Linked DNA regions of Homo sapiens: region 2 is linked to region 1. Evidence: fine-mapped expression QTL. A gene starts in region 1. The other region holds a variant in brackets. All regions are shown on one strand. Distances are between the middles of the regions.

Region 1 (8,328 bases):
AATGGCATGTGTAGTCATCATGAAAGGTGATTAACTGGACAGCAGGCAATAGGTTCCCAGTGTCAGTTTACCTTTGTGGAGGATTGAGTCAACTTGAGGGACTGTGTAGAGGGACTGAGCCACAATCCAAAACCACAGAGTTTGGGGTCTGGCAGTTGAGGCAGCTGCCATTCAACCAACAGCACTCCCGTGAGCTGCACTCAACAGGTGATCTGCTGTGGGCTCCAGCCACCCTCGCCATCTACCCTCACACAAGTGGTCTGATGTTTCTGTTTATGGGGACAAGAGATGCCATAATGCCATTCTATACATGGGGGCAGATGTCCTAGTCTCTCCTTCAAAACTTTTCAACTAGCTTCAAACAGGGAGGGCCCTCAATGAATGTTTGTATCTGCAATGAATACATTTCCACTCAAATCAGTAAATCCCCTGGCTGGGGTCTGGTACCCTTGGCTGTAATAATCATTAGTACAAGATGTTCTGTCAACAGGGATTGTTTGGACATATTCTTTGGGCTGACAATTTATGTCAAGCCCTATGTGGGACACGGAATAGGGAAATGCTATTCCTGTCCTGAAAGGAGAGAACTGGGAAGGCTAGAGTTACACAAATGAGATAAATACCAAGACAGCATATAATTACTGCTAAACTGTGTAGTAAGAAATTAAGTGCTATAGGAATTGGGAAAAGTAGGGAGCAGGGAGGGCTCAAACAGTTGAGGAGTCTACACTGAAGAGCTGGGATTGGGCTGAACCTTGAGAAATGACACAAACTATGGATAGTCTGAAAGGAAGGAGGGTACAAAAGACGCAGGAGGAAGAACACAGCCAAACCAGCATACTTGTTTGTTACTTTATTTTCGGGACAGCAACACAAGGAATGTGAAAGGTTGCCGTCCCAAATCCCGAAGCAAGGCTATTTCTGAATAGTTGTCCAACATTCAAACTTCTGGGCCTTTATTTATTGTTTCCTCCGCTTGCAATGCCTTTCTTCCTTCTCCACCTGGCAAGCTCTTATTCACATTTAAAGGCCCCGCTCAAATGCAACTACTTTTCTGAAGCCTTCCAAGGGATCCCACAATCCATTGTTCATGCTTCTATGGGAACCTAACCTATTACACTTGCCTGCTTACCTCCCCTACTAATATAATTAATAGCAACTTACACTTACTGGGCTTTTACTATGTGCCAGGAACTATGCTAAACATTTTTATTTATTTATTTTTTATTTTTTGAAGGGTATTCCCAAAACACCAAGTTAAACATTTTTAACATATTATTTTATTTAAACCTCACAACAATTGCATGAGGTATTTTCCCTATTTTACGGATGAAGCTCTTGAGACTTAGTGTGGTTAAGGAACCTGCACAAGATAACATACCTACGAAGTAAGCAAGCTGTGATTCCAACCCAGATTTGTGGGACTCCAAAGCCCACTACTAATCCACTGGACCGTGTTCCTGGAGGCCACAAATGCTCTTTCCTCAGCTGTCTTCTCAGATCCTAGAACGGGCTGATATATGGCTCAAAAGTTCTTTAACGGCCAGGCACGGTGGCTCAAGCCTGTAATCCCAGCACTTTGGAAGGCCAAGGCAGGAGGATCACCTGAGGTCCAGGAGTTCGAGACCAACCTGGCCAACATGGTGAAACCCTGTCTCTACTAAAAATACAAAAATTAGCAGGATGTGGTAGCAGGCGCCTGTAATCTCAGCTACTTGGGAGGCTGAGGCAAGAGAATCGCTTGAACCTGGGAGGCAGAGGTTGCAGTGAGCCGAGATCACACCATTGCACTCCAGCCTGGGCGACAGAGAATCCGTCTCAAAAGAAAAAAAAAAGTTGTCTAACATATTAATACAACTTTCAAGCCACATGCCTCGGTCTAAAAGTAGGTGCCCCCAGTACACTTTTACCCCAGGTAGCAACTTCCACTCACCTTAAAGTCACATACCTGGAGGAAGGGGATAGGGAGGAAATCTAAACATCTTATACTTGAATGTAAGCTCCGTTATTTCACGGATTCAAATGTGGTGAAAGGAACTATTTTTTTTTCCTTTTTTTTTTGAGATGGAGTCTCACTCTGTCGCCCAGGCGCGATCTCGGCTCACTGCAACCTCCCGTCTCCCGTGTTCAAGCAATTCTCCTGCCTCAGCCTCCAGAGTAGCTAGGATTACAGGCGCCCACCACCACGCGCAACTGATTTTTGTATTTTTAGTAGAGACAGGGTTTCACCATGTTGGCCAGGCTGGTCTCAAACTCCTGACCTCAGGTGATCCGCCCGCCTCGGCCTCCCAGAGTGCTGGGATTACAGGCGTGAGCCACCGGGACCAGACGGAACTATTCTTTTCCACAAAAGAACAAACACATACATAACTTTTGCCACGTCTGAAGACGAGGGTTCTAATAGGGCGCGGGTGGTGTCTCAGGTATTTTGAAAGGAGCTACCCAAGAATCTCAGCTTGTCAGGCCAGTCATTCCATTTGACCCTATCTGGCGCGTATTGGGGCCCCGACAAGGTAAGGGGTTGGCATGAAGCTGCACAGTGAGATAAAGCTGGACCGGAGCTAGAACCCAGAATCAAAGCCTTGCCCTGTGCGGTTTCTCATCGCCTACGCAGTCGGGCCCTGGCCTGGCATCTCCAGGCAGGTGGCCTTGGACGGAAGCCCGGCCTACTGGCTTCATTTGTGGGACCCCGGGGGTCCTCTCCTCCGCCCATGGAGCCTGGTTACTCCCACTTCCTCAAGCCTAGGGCCTGGAGAAGCCTTTCCTGGTTCGCGGCCTCACGGTCTGCAAGGTCCTCTTACTTCCCTGAAGCCGCTCCAGCCCCACTTCCCGAAGGTCCCGCTTCCGGGTGGCTCGCTTCGCCACCTGCGGTCCCCTGCCTCGGCTTGGGAACGCCAAGGACATCCCCCACGGAAGCCTGGGCCCACATCCCCATGCCCTTGCCGCACGTCACCGCCCCGCTGGCCCCGAATACGCCTCCGCCCTGCACTTCCTCTCTGCAGCGCCGTCTTTCCGGCCGGGCTCCCTTCTAATTGGCCAGCTCAGAGCTTCCTCGGGTACTCGGCCACTCGGGGCATCGCGGCGGCCTTTCTAGCCGCTGTCCCAAGGGTTGGTCTCGCGCTTTCGGCTGCGAGCTCTCTGTGGTGCTGGCAGCGACATGTGGCGCCTCCCGGGACTCCTGGGCCGAGGTAAGGGACGTCCAAGCAACCAGCGTCACTCTGGGCCGCAAAGACCGAACTGGAGTGGGGGCGGGCCCGAGGAAACAGCCGAAGCGATCGTGGGCCGGGTTAGAGCCAAGGAAGGCGGGGCTTGAAAGAGGGCGGGGAAGTCAGGGGCTGCTGGAATTTGAGATGTGGATGGGCCTAGCTAGAAGAGGGTGGAGTCCAAGAAGTTGGTAGGACTGTTGGGAGGGGGAGGAGTCCAATGGCAGGAGATGGTGGACTGAATGAATGAAAGAGGATTAGGGGCCAATGGAGTAGGCATAGCCAGTGAAGAGAGGAGAGGTTTAGAGTCAAAGAGCCCCAAACATTAGTGAGAGTATATGTATGAACGTTTGGTCATCTTAGAACAGTGGTTGGCATCCACAGGAGACCAGCAGAATCACATGGGCGCTTTTAAAAAACGTGGATGCTCTACCCTGAGAAATCTTAGTTTATTGGTTCTGGGGTACTACCCTAGAATCTGTAGTAGATAAAAGATTCCCATGTGTATCCATGTTTAAGAACCTCTGCTGAGGCAGATGACAGTGATTCCTGGGTTCTTGTTGAGGTGCCTGAGTTTTGGTTGTTCTGTACAGCTCTTCCCCGTACACTGGGACCTAGCCTCTGGAGGGTGACTCCTAAGTCCACCAGCCCAGATGGGCCTCAGACTACCTCCTCCACTTTGCTGGTTCCTGTGCCTAACCTCGACAGGTAAGATACTGCCATTTTACCACTCATTTCCTCCCCTAGTCACCCTTTTTTTTTATTTTTTTTTTTTTGTTGTTTTTTGAGATGGAGTCTCATTCTGTCGCCCAGGCTGGAGTGCAGTGGGGCAATCTCAGCTCACTGCAACCTCCGCCTCCCAGGTTCAAGCAGTTCTCTGCCTCAGCCTCCCGAGTAGCTGGGATTACAGGCACCCGTCACCACACCCTGCTAATTTTTATTTTATTTTATTTTTTTTGAGACAGAGTCTCGCTCTGTCGCCCAGGCTGGAGTGCAGTGGCGCGATCTTGGCTCACTGAAACCTCCGCCTCCTGGGTTCAAGCGATTCTGCTGCCTCAGCCTCCCAAGTAGCTGGGATTTCAGGCATGCACCATCACGCCTGGCTAATTTTTTTTGTATTTTTAGTAGAGACGGGGTTTCACCATGTTAGCCAGGATGGTCTTGATCTCCTGATCTCATGATCTGCCCGCCTCAGCCTCCCAAAGTGCTGGGATTACAGTGTGAGCCACTGTACCCAGCCAATTTTTATATTTTTAGTAGAGATGGGGTTTCACCATCTTGACCAGGCTGGTCTTGAACTCCTGACCTCGTGATCCACCCACCTCAGCCTCCCAAATTGTTGGGATTACAGGTGTGAGCCACCGCACCCAGTCCCTGGTCTCCCTTTGCCCCTACTTGATAGCCTCTTATTTCATCATCTAGGTCAGGTCCCCATGGCCCAGGCACGAGCGGGGGTCCAAGGTCCCATGGATGGAAGGATGCCTTCCAATGGATGTCTTCCCGTGTCTCCCCGAACACCCTATGGGATGCCATATCTTGGGTAAGGCTTCCCCAGCCTGGTCCTTGACCTTCAGTGTAGATGAGAATGATCCTTCATGGGTATACAGCCGAACCTGGAACAAGGGCTAGGGAATCACTGTGTCCATTTAACAAGTAACCCATGGTATTGGAGCATATTCAAGGAGATATTGCCACTTTCCACACCCCCGCCATGTATGTTTTCCTCATTTAATTCAGTAAACATTTATGTAACACCTTGTCTGGGCCAGGCATTTTTGCTAGTCACTACGGACATAGCAGAGAACAAGATAGATACATTCTTGCCTTCATGGATCTTACAATAAATAATAATACATTGCATCTTTTTTTTATTATTCATTTTTTTTATTTTTAAATTATTATTTTTTTCTGAGACAGAGTCTTTCTCTGTCGCCCAGGCTGAAGTGCAGCGGCATGATCTTGGCTCACTGCAACCTCCGTCTCCCGGGTTCAAGCAATTCTCCTGCTTCAGCCTCCCAAGTAGCTGGGATTACAGGCACGTGCCACCACGCCTGGATAATTTTTGTGTTTTTAGTAGAGACGGGGTTTCACCATTTTGGCCAGGATGGTCTCGAACTCCTGATCTCGTGACCCACCCACCGCGGCCTCCCAAAGTGCTGGGATTACAGCTGTGAGCCACCGCGCCCGGCCTTATAGCATTATTTATTAATGTAAAGTATTATACATGCATTATCTTGTGTAATCCTTACAAAAATCTTACAAGGGAAATATCACCTTCATTTTACAGCTGAGGAATCTCAGGCTCTGAAATATTAGGTAACATGCGTAGGGTCTCATACCTGTTAAGTGGAGGAGCCAGATTTAACTCTGGAGTTCATGTTCTACTGCTTGGTTGCTGCATCAAATACAGAGCCTAGCCCGTAATAGTTGCTCAAAAATATTTGTTGAACCTGATCTATAAGGTCAGATTCTTACTAGTGAACACTAGGTCTCATAGGGCAGAGTCTTCGCTTTTCAGGCAATGTTCCAGGTGGAAGTTCTGCTTATAAGATCTTCTGAATGAAGTTGACACACACATCACTCTCATGTTTGTCACAGCTCATCCCTGCTGCTTTCGTGCTGTGTACTTTGGACAAATGACTTGACCTGTGTGACCCTTGGCTTTCTCATCTGTAAATTGGTGTCATCAGCAGAGCTGAGCCTGGGATGTCTCCATGACAGGGTTACCCCTCTATGGGGAGCTGTGGACTAAGGCCATATCATACCCTGAAGAGAGGAGCATTTTCCCATGTTGCCAAAGAAGATCTGAGCCCTAGGGCTGTCCCATAGTGAGAAGTAGGAAGTGGGCCTGGATTCCAGAAGTCCCAATGCCATCCCTGTGCTCTGTCACTACTGCTCATATGAAAGGGTCTGCACGCAAGCTGTCCTCAGTACCATGGATACTTGTCTCTGTTCTTCACAATGCTGGTGCCTTTTCTTCTGGCCTTAGCCCACACGTCACCCCCACAGACAGGCTTTCCCTGACTCCTTGTCTTGTCAGGACCCCTTTTATGCTCTGTGTAACTCTCTGATTAGTTTCCTTCTTGGCATTTAACATCACTAGTAATTACTCTATTTCTCTCTGTAGTTGTGTTTTGTCTTTCTAAACACAAGATATAAACTTCATGAGGGCAGAAATTATGTCTGTCTTACTTGCTATTGTATGCAGTGCCTGGAGCAACAAGTAAGTATCTGGGTCAACCTGTGTGTTTTTTTTAGGCTGGAGCGCAGTGGTGCGATCCTGGCTCACTGCAACCTCTGCCTCCCAGGTTCAAGCAATTTTCATGCCTCAACCTCCGAGTAGTTGGGATTACAGGTGTGCCCCACCACGCCTGGCTAATTCTTGTATTTTTAGTGGAACAGAGTTTCTCCATGTTGGCTGGTCTTCAACTCCTGGCCTCAAGTGATCCACCTGCCTCAGCCTCCCAAGTGCTGGGATTACAGGCATGAGCCACTGCACCCGACCCTGGGTCAACCTTCTTAAGCATAACATAAGGAGAGACAGGAGACAGGGAAAACCAAGGAGTCTCTGGGATAAGAGCTAGCTCAGGTCTTCTGCAGACCTGTCAGAGAAGAAACACCTTTACAAAGCTTACACCTGGAGATGTGTGTGTGCTGGGGTGGCTTCACTGGGGGAATGGGAGTTGGTGGAAGGAGGGGTTGTGCAAGACTGGAAAGAGAGCCTAATGGGGAACTCTGACCTGTTGCTATATTTGCAACTAGGTGCCAACCTACCCCATTATCTTTTTGCCTGCTTAGTCTTCGCTTATTTAGTCACTTGATCAAGCATTTATTCAGGTTGTACTTATTAGGTCCCTACTATATATTAGCACTGTGCTGTACTTGGGCACCAGAGATACATTGGTGAGTAAAACACACATGGTCCCTGCCCATGTCGTGCTTATAGACTAACAGGAGAGACAGACCTTAGATAAATAAATGTAGAGATGATTGTTTAAATGCCAGTGTGGTCAGGGCTCCAGAGAAGTTAGGGTGTTGTGAAAGTTTGTAGTCGGGGAGCTGCCCCACCTGGATTTCCTGAGGAAGTGATGTTTGAGAATAAGGCCGGGTCTGATGGAGTTGATTGGTGAAGGACCGTGTCCTTAACGTGCTGTCTTTCCCAGGGCACTCTGGCCGTGCTGGCCCTGCAGCTGGCAAGGCAGATCCACTTCCAGGCATCCCTGCCAGCAGGACCTCAGCGGGTAGAACACTGCTCCTGGCACAGTCCCCTGGACCGTTTCTTCTCATCTCCCTTGTGGCACCCATGCTCCTGTGAGTTCTCAGTCCTGGGGACAGGAGGGCTGGGCTGGGCGTTTCTCTGGGCCAGGAAGCGTCTCTGGACACACCTCAGGAAAAGAGCCATCAGCAGCTCCTTGCCTTTCCTATCTGAAGTCAGAGGAAGAGGAATGTGGGGAAGTTCTATCCACCCAGGGCATGGGCCACACCTGCCCCTCAGTGTCTTTCCATTTCCTCCCATCACCTCCAACCAAGGGAGGCCCACAGGGTCCAGACTACTTTAGATTCTGGGTGTGGCTTCCTGGCCCACATTCAACCAGTTAAATTATTCTCTGGTCAGTCACTCAGTCATTCATAAATAAATGAATCTTTATTGAGCACCTATTATGTGCCATGGTGCAGAAGCAACATAGCCTAGTGGTTGAGGCTCTGGAGTCAGATTATAGAGGTTCAAGTCCCAAAATTGCTGCATACTAGTCTTATGTCCCTGAACAAGTCACTTTTAACTTCCTTCTGCCTCGGTTTCTTTATCTATAAATTGGGGTAATAATAAAACCCACCCCATAGGTTTCTTGGGAGGACTAAATGAGTTAATACATGTCAAGGACTTAGGGCAGTGCCTGACACATAGTAAGTGTGTAGTAATTATTAGTTTAAGCATTAGTTCTTGTCCTTATTATGATGATAATCATTAGCAATATTGCTATCAAAGAAAGTGCTAGGTACTGGGGCTACAACAGTGAGTAAGGTAGATGCCTCCCTGCCACTGAAGAATTTAGGCAGAGGAGTGATTGATGCTTAGGGTGGGAGATCAGCACAAATACAGGCCCCTCTAGACTCCTCTGGAGGG
Region 2 (8,328 bases), 33 kb after region 1:
AATAGGGAAGGAAACTGTGTTTTGCTTCACAGGAAACCTGAGCTGATAGCCTGGCCAAACAGAAGTGTGCCTTGGGCGGGCAGCCTGGCACAGTGAAAATATCTGAGGTTCACAGAAGCAGATATGGGTGTGAGATCAGGCATCATCCCTGGAAAGGTTTCCCCACTTGTGTCTAGAAAATCCCAGGTCCTTAGACATTTTGACACTCATCATCCCATTTAGCCCTCACACTCTAAGGAGGCAGACACAGGGTAAGTTTGGTCTCATAATCCCCATTTTATAGATGAGGAAAATGAGGCTCAGATGTTGAAGGACGTGTACAAGGTTGCCCAGCTCCTAAGTGGCTGTGTTGAAATCTGAACTCCAATCTGCCTAACTGCTAAGTTCTAAGGTAATTTCCACTGCCCCATCCGCAGGCCCAGCCGGAAAGCTCTGGGGTCTCAGACAAATTATTTGCAACACCTGGGTTTGGGTGCAATGATGCCTATGCTGGCCTTCTTCATAGGGAAGTTGCCCAGATGAGATGAAGGCAGGCAAATAGTGGAGATGGAGAAGTGCTTTGAGGAAGTAATAGTAATAATTTGCTGAGTACTGACTACATGTCAGATGGACACTGTTCTACAGGCATTAAGAGCATTCACTCATTTTATTTTCAAGCAAACTTAGAAGATGGGTGGTGTTAACATAGACATCTTCAACAGAGATGTTAACTTCCTCTGTGGTTCAGAGCTAGGAAGAAGTGGAGCCAGGATTTGAACCCAGGTAACCTTGCCCAAAGCTTATACTCTTAATCACTACCTTTGCTGTGTGTCTACTTGTGAGGCACCATAAATGCCTTATAGGAATTAATTGATCAAATCCTCTGGACAACTCTACAAGGTAGATACTCTTACTATCATCTCTAATTTACAGATAAGACAACTAAGGCCCAGAGACAGTAAGGAATTTGCCTAGGATCACACAGCTAAGTTCAGCCGATCACAAAGCTGTGCCCTGAACCATTGCTACCCAAAGCATCAGAAAGTGCCAGGTGAGCCTAAGGAAGAAACATGAGGACTGTGCAGGTTATGGGGGTGTCTGATTCTGTTTCTGGTGGTCCAGGAGTGACCAGAGAAAGAGCTGCCCATGCCCCAGGTACCTGAACAGGAGGAGAATCCACAGTGAGCTCCTCCACGGGGTTCCGCTCGGCGAAGGCAGCCACAGACAGCCGGACCAGGCTCCGCAGGATCTGACGGGGCCCTGATTCTTTCTCAGGGGACACTTTGCCATTGAGATGTCGCTGCCGTCTCAGGGTTGCAGAGGAGGCTGGTGGCCTCTGTGGGGCTTCCTCACTGCCCTGGTCTCCAGCCAGCCTCCCTGTGGGGCTGCCTGCAACCTTCAGAGGCCTGGAACGTGGCTGGCCTGTGGCAGGCTGGGGCTCGGGAAGGTTCAGGTTCTCCCGGGAGGCATTCCTCTGCCTGGGATGGTTGAAAAGGAGGTTGACCGTGTCTTGCAGCACCTCTCGGCTCTCCGCCGGTGCTCCCTGGTTGCCTTGATTACGCAGCGTCCTGTACAGGGTCGGGGTGAGGTGGAAGGGGGCCTGCAGGCAGGGGTCCCAGCCTGCTTCCATCATCGCCTCCTTGTCCACATCTTTGTGGGACTGCCCGACTTCACAAGGCTCACCTGCCTGACCCCTGAGCACAGGCACGAGGTGGATGTCTGCCTTCTGAATGTGTTTCTGGGGCCTCTTGGGCTGCTGGCGGTAGGTGGACTCGGCCTCCCGACAGTTGTAGGCCCTGTTGTCCTTCTTTTCTGTCCGGCAGATGGACATGAACAAAGCCAGGATCAACCCGAAGATGCCCAACAGTACAGCCAGGCAGATCACCGTCAGCATCGACATGCTCAAGGCCCCAGGCTTGCGGGCTGAGTCCCTCAGGTGGTCCACACTGGTGACAAACATGACCCTCAACAGGGCTCGGGTCTGTAAGGGGGGGCTTCCCTGGTCCTCTACTACTATCTCCAGCTCCCACTCACTCCCAATGAGGCTGCTGGCATTGGTGACATTGACGAACAGCTGCCCCGTATGAGGGTTGAGGATGAAGAGGTGGGCTTCATTTCCACTGCGGATGCTGTAGAGGGGCTCTCCATTTGCCCCCGAGTCTGCATCTCTTGCCACAATGGTTGTCAAAAGGAATGGCCGGGAGCTGTGAGTGGCCAGTGGAGGTGTGTCAGTGCCCGCTGGGCCCAAGCCATTGGGAGTCTCGATGGGCACCAGCAGGTGGCCTGTGGAGGCATTCACAAGCACGGAGAGGCTGGCTTTTCCATCGCTGAGCACAGGCTGGACCACCTCTGGGGCATTATCATTGGCATCCAAGAGGCTGACCCACACAGAGACACTGGATGCAAGCATGGGTTGCCCGCTGTCCTCTGCGATCACCTGGAACTCAAAGCCGGCCATCTCTTCATAGTTCAGTGACCTCTGAGCAGTGACCTCTCCTGTGTTGGAGTCAATAGCTACTAAGTGAGCAACTGGGGAGTCCTGGATGCGGTATGAGACTTTTCCATTAATGCCCAAGTCTGCATCATGAGCCTTGATGGTAATGAGGTGAAGAGAGGGTAAGTTGTTTTCCCGCGTGGAGACTTCATACCTGCTTTTCTCAAACACAGGTGCATTGTCGTTGATGTCACTGATCTGAATGCTGAGCTGTTTCTTGGCTGATAAGGGCTGGAGTCCTTGGTCTTGGGCTAACAGAGTGAGGGTATATTTGGGCCACTGCTCTCTGTCCAGTGTGGCATTGGTTAGCAACATGTATGTGTTGCCATTAGTTCTTTTCAGCCTGAAGTGGCCCAGCTCTTGGCTCAGCCAGCAGTGGACCAAACCATTGTGTCCTGAATCCAAGTCATCTGCCATGACAAGAGCAATAAAACTGTCCTTGGGAAGAGCTTCTGACACCAGTGATGGCTGGGAGGCCCATGTGACGTGGATGCTTGGGATGTTGTCATTGACATCCAGAACCTTGATGAGAACTTTGCAATGGGCTGGGATAGGATTGGGACCCAGGTCCCTTGCCTGAACATCCACCTCGTAGGCAGGGTTCTTTTCATAGTCTAGAGGTCGACGCAGAATGACCTGGCCTGTCTTGGCATCAATACTGAAGGTGTCCAGCACCTCTGGAGGCATGTGCTTACTGAGGAAGAACTCCACCTCCCCATTGGGGCCTTGGTCAGGGTCTGTGGCGGTCAGTTTTATGAGAAGCGTACCAGGTGCAGCATCTTCTTGGATTTCCAGTGCCAGTGAACTCTCAGCAAACGCAGGGCTATTGTCATTGGAGTCCAAGACGTTGACCTTGACCAAGCTGGTACCTGACTTGGGGGGGTTCCCATTGTCATAGGCAGTTAACACCAGATCAAAAAATGAATGGATTTCCCTGTCCAGCTCCTTCACCACTATGAGTTCTGCATGTTTGGTCTCATCAGGGCCCACAATGACATCCAAGGCAAAGTGCTCACTGGGAGACAGAGTGTAGGTGTGCAGGGTGTTAGGGCCTGTGTCTGGGTCAAGAGCTCTGTCCAGGGGGATCCGGGTTCGCAGAGAGGCGCTCTCAGAGATTTCCAGCTCCTGCTCGCCTTTGGGAAACCGTGGCTGGTGGTCATTGATGTCCAGCACTTGGATCTCCACATGGATCAGAGCCAAATCCCCTGTGGCAAGCACATCAAAGGAAACCAGGCAGGGATCCCACTGTCGGCACAGCTGCTCTCGATCCAGCCGCCTGCCTGTGCTGAGCAAGCCTTCCTCAGAGTCCACCTGAATGGGGAGCGCCTGAGGCAGCTGCAACACCTGGAAGGC[A/G]GCCCCAGCTTGCCTCCGCCTCTCCTCCCGGCCCAGTTCCTGGGACAGCTTCCCGATCACTGTACCAGATGGCACTTCCTCTGACACTTGGTATTTCACCGTGAGAGTGGTCACCTCCTGACAATCCCCTAAAAGAAATAAGTAGCCACCTGGCCCCAAAAGCCCCAGCAGAAGTTGCAGAAGTTGCATCATGCTTACCGCCAAGTGGGCTAGATTCAGAAACCACTAGAGTTCTTTCAAGGCTGGACAAGTCCTCCAGTGTTTCCTGGATGGCTTGATCAGCCCCGTGCTCCTTCCCCCAGAGCTGCCGGCACAACCTTGTCCCATAGTTAGATGATTATGAAACAAGCAGGACCCCAAGGCAAGGCCATCTTCATTGGAAGCGATCTGAGATGTCCAAACGCCGATCAAGAATTGCCAGGGGAGACCCCCTACTGGGGAACTAGTTGGTCCACTTCAGCAAATGATGGACAAGAGCTGGTCTAAGAGGGACCTGACCCAGTTGAGCAGGATGTGGGACTCTGACTGCCAAACAGTTGCTAGGCTGGGGAAACAGAGAAGCAGCTTTTTCCTATGGAAACCCCACCTACAGGAAAAGGGAGGGCTGTGAGTTTCAATGCCAATTAGAGAAAGAGCATTTCCTGTGAAGCTAAGTGGCCTGCCGCTGAGGAGGATGAGGCCGGGGCTCCGGGGACAGGCCAGATGGGAAGCTGCTGTCCACGCAGCAAGGCGGCTGCTGAGGGAAAGGGAGCCTCTGCATCACCAAGTGAGCAGAAAACTTGAGCCTCCACCTGCTTGCACGTGGACTGATGCCCCTCCCGGGCAAGTCATGTTTCCTGTTTCTCTCCCCTTCCCCAACTCTCTTTGTTCCTATCTTTTCCCCCATTGTTCCCCTCTCATTCCTGTCTTTTTCCCAATCTTGTTTACCTCTCTGTCTTGACTCTGCCCTGATCACCCGTTTTTGTCTCACTGGAAAGCAGCTGTGATTAACAGAGCAGCCATCAGAGGTAAACTGCCTGAGTTCAAATTCTGACTTTGCAACTTACCAGCGGTGTCATCTGGGACAAGTCACTTAACTTTCCTGGGCCTCCATTACCTCATCTGTAGAGTGGGGATGGGAGTAAGAATAGTAGCCCTTTCAGCAGGAAACTGTGAGGATTAAACGAAATGATGTAGGAAGGGCTTTGGCCTGGGCCTGGCCCCGAGTCACAGGCAGTGACGTTATTGCAAGGGGTGAGTGTTGTAATCTGCACAACTTGTCACACCCTATGGCTACCTCTGGATCTTGGATTGGCCCTGGGGCAGTCCCTGCCCACACTGACTTATGAGGGTGCCCATGGTCTTGATTCCAGAAGCTGCAAGAACCTGTGCAACTTGACCGTGTGGCTCTCCTCCCGCTTCCCTTCTGCCCCCCTCCAGCCTTGAAGTCCATTGTTCTCTGCATCTGGTCCAGACTGAGTCTCTGTCTGGGGAACCCCCAGCCTCCCACTCCTCTTGGAAGCTTTTATACGTTTCCCTCTCCCACACCTTCCCCTCCCTTTCATCTATGTCTTTCCCCCTTCCTCCAATTCTTCTCTCCCCAGTTTTGTTTATAAGAGTCCCGTGAAGCACATCTCCTTTGCTGCCCCCAACTCTCCTTTTAGATGTTTTAAGGGATACCCTATCTTCCACTCACCTCCTCATAAGGTGAAATTCAGGAAGGAAGGAGGTGAATGAGCAGTTTGCTTGGGTGGGCTTTGAGGTGGCCTTATTGCTTCTTATTGTGCCCTTCAGTTTGCTGCCCCCAACATTCTCCCAGCCTTATACCCACTTCAAGGTTGATCCCTGAGGCTCATGAAGCATTTGAGGTGATGAGAATGAACGCCAGCTTCCCTAGATGGGTGTTTGCTACTAAGCCCTTGGGGCCAGAGATGCCATGTTTGGACCCAAGTGGCACTAGTCAGGGCTTATTGGCATGGAGGCCTGTGGTCATCAGGACTGGGGTGGCTAAGGGACAGTCACCTGCACTCCTTCCCTTTCTCTCTGGCTTTTCTTTCCCTTAACTCCATATCCCACTCCTGAGGTTTCCCAACTATTTCACTGAAACCCATTAAACCATAGCAAGGGGCCTGAATCCAGGGCCACCTCCTACAGCATGGCCCTGGAGACAGACAGGCCACTCACAAGCTCTGAGACACTGCACAAGGGACTTAACCTCTCCTAGCCTCTGTTTCCTTCTCTGAGGGCTGTCATCGATCTCACAAGGTGGGGTAAGGACTCAGCACAGGGCCTGGCTCAGAGAAAGCACTCAGCACATAAGGACTATGATTTTGCTGTTTATTATCTTCCAAGTTTTATGCCTCATACGCAAATGGCAAAGATGGCCTTGCATTTGTCCCTTCACTTTTTTCTTTGCCTCTTTGGCAGGAATCCCATTTCTCAGGTCTCCCTCAGCTTGGTGTGGGCAAGGTGCTGCCTAAGCTACTAGGAGCCCCTGGGAGCTCAGGGACACAAGGGTGCCCATTGCCCCCTGCTGGCAGCCCACGTGACAGTCTCACTATCCGCCCCGCAATCGTCCCCCTGTGTGCCTGACAGTGAACAAGGCAAGGGGCTGACAGTCGCAGGTGGGGGCAGGGAAAATGAAAGGCGAGAGGCCAGTAGAATGGCTCTGGAATCAGGCCTGGGGGTCCGGGAGGCTCCTCATGGAGGGCACACGCTGAATCCTGACGGACCTGGAGGAGTGAGCCCGAGGAAGTTGAATAGGCAGGAGACAGGCAAAGCTGGTGGCAGGGGCAAAATGGGCAAAGGCCCCGAAGTGGGCAGGCTGGCTCCTGGCTGTGCTGCAAGAGGGTCAGTGCAGTAGTGTAGGGAGGAAGGTTGGGCAGGGGACATAAGCAGGGGTCCTCAGATGATGCAGTGGCCTGGGTTCCCATGGCTAAGAATTTAGACCTTGTCCTGAAGGTCGTGGAGTGCTTTTGAAAAGCTCTACGCAGGATAATGAGAACAGCGACCACATGCCAGGCCTTGTCCTAAGTGCTTTACCTACATCCTCTCATGACGCACTCACAGCCATACCATCACATTGAAGATGCTGAGCACACAGCGTTAGGTAACTTGCCCAAGATCACACAGATGTGCCCTCCAGAAAGGCCTTTTGGCTGCACCCTGGAAAATGGCTTGGAAGGGAACAGAGAAGAGGGAGGGAGCCTAGTTGAGAGTAATGCAGGGGAGCTTTGATGCAGAAAACTCGTTTCCAGAGCGCCATCTGGTGGCCAAAGGCAGAGAAAACGGCACAGAGGCAGGGACCGGGGACAGCCACGAAAACAGGAAGTGGGTGCCTGGGGTTCATAAATATCCACAGCTCCAGCCCCGTGCTACACAGAAGAATACAACAGGAGAAGCTACTCACTGATGACAATAGTATCTCTTAATGGAAAACCTAACGTGGACCAAGGCCACAGAAGGAGTTATGGAATTCATGATAATTTTACTTGTGTTAACATTTATATTCTTCAGAGGACATTGTTTTATCTATATATATTTTACATGCAGTTATATATCTGTTGGGTGTGTGTGTGTGTGTGTCTGTGTTTTGACTGGGAATGTGAATGCAAAAAAATGATGCATAGGTCGCAAGAAAGTTTGAATTTAGATTTCATAGGTGGTTTTTATTGTTTGTTTTATTCACACTGGGGACATGAAGCTAAGATTACCCTTTGAGATTTCAAAGCTGGCAAACAAGGCCCCAGACTTTTTTAAGGTGATCACCTCTGGAAATGAGGTCCCCATTTAGCAATTTTCTCTCCTCCTTCTGGCTGCAGGGGTCAGCTGATCTTTAGCAGTCAAATGCCAAGGGGTGAATGGAGCTGTCACTAGAGTTCGTCTGGAAAGGCGACGTTTTCCTGAGTTTTGAAAATAGGTTTGAAGGAGTGGAGGTACTCTGAAATAGGTTTGAAACAATTGAGGACAGCCTCCCTTAAGTCCAAAATATTTTTTTTAAAAGGGCAGGATTAGGGTTTGTGCTTGAAGGCCTCACTAACCACCAAACTTGGGGTTGTTCACACTTGGGTTCTTAACCACAGGGAGGGCTGAGGGGTGAAGTGGGAAGGGTGGGGGTTCAGAGAATCTTCTTAAAACACCTGGAGTCCTAAGGAACCTTGAGGGGTCAGACTAGTAAGGTGTGACTCTGACCCTTGGAGGACTCCCAGGCCAGCTGAATGAAGGCTGAGATCACACCTCGCCCCTACGAATGTCCCGCTGGGCTGGCTGCCCCACTTCCAGGGCTCTGGTCTTCCAGGCTTTCTCCTCGTGAATCTCCCCTGTGGTTGCCACAGCATCACCACCAAGACAGCTTTGGGGAAGCCAAGAAGCATCCTCCGGCTTATCCCAGGTAGGGAGGTGGTTGGACCGTCCAAGCTCAGCGTCTTTTTTCAGGAAGATCTTGTTGAAGTTAGATTCCTAGTCAGACCAGGAATCTTGACTGGGAGACTCAGGTAGATGTTCTGGGTTATCTGCTCCTAGCA

Direction of the effects. Alleles are on the strand shown, and positions count from the first base shown. SD is a standard deviation of normalised expression in the study named.
In carriers of allele G in region 2, the expression in tibial artery of the gene that starts at base 3,087 in region 1 tends to be lower than with A alone (small effect, 0.17 SD a copy in GTEx).

The links. PIP is the estimated chance that this variant, and not a neighbour inherited with it, causes the effect.
Region 2: its variant is fine-mapped to the expression of DELE1 in tibial artery (GTEx, PIP above 0.99).

What each region holds. Positions count from the first base shown.
Region 1 is chr5:141,920,785-141,929,112 of GRCh38, forward strand. DELE1 (DAP3 binding cell death enhancer 1) reads left to right here and starts at 3,087. Exons shown (of 12, transcript NM_014773.5): 1 at 3,087-3,188; 2 at 3,797-3,911; 3 at 4,626-4,743; 4 at 7,367-7,514. The coding sequence starts at 3,158. RefSeq lists an enhancer at 2,968-3,481.
Region 2 is chr5:141,953,834-141,962,161 of GRCh38, forward strand. It overlaps PCDH12 (protocadherin 12), which reads right to left and starts at 4,369. Exons shown (of 4, transcript NM_016580.4): 1 at 1,139-4,369. The coding sequence starts at 4,018. It also overlaps a transcript of RNF14 not described here. RefSeq lists enhancers at 3,229-4,135, 4,136-5,041. The variant A/G (reference allele first, on the strand shown) is at 3,827.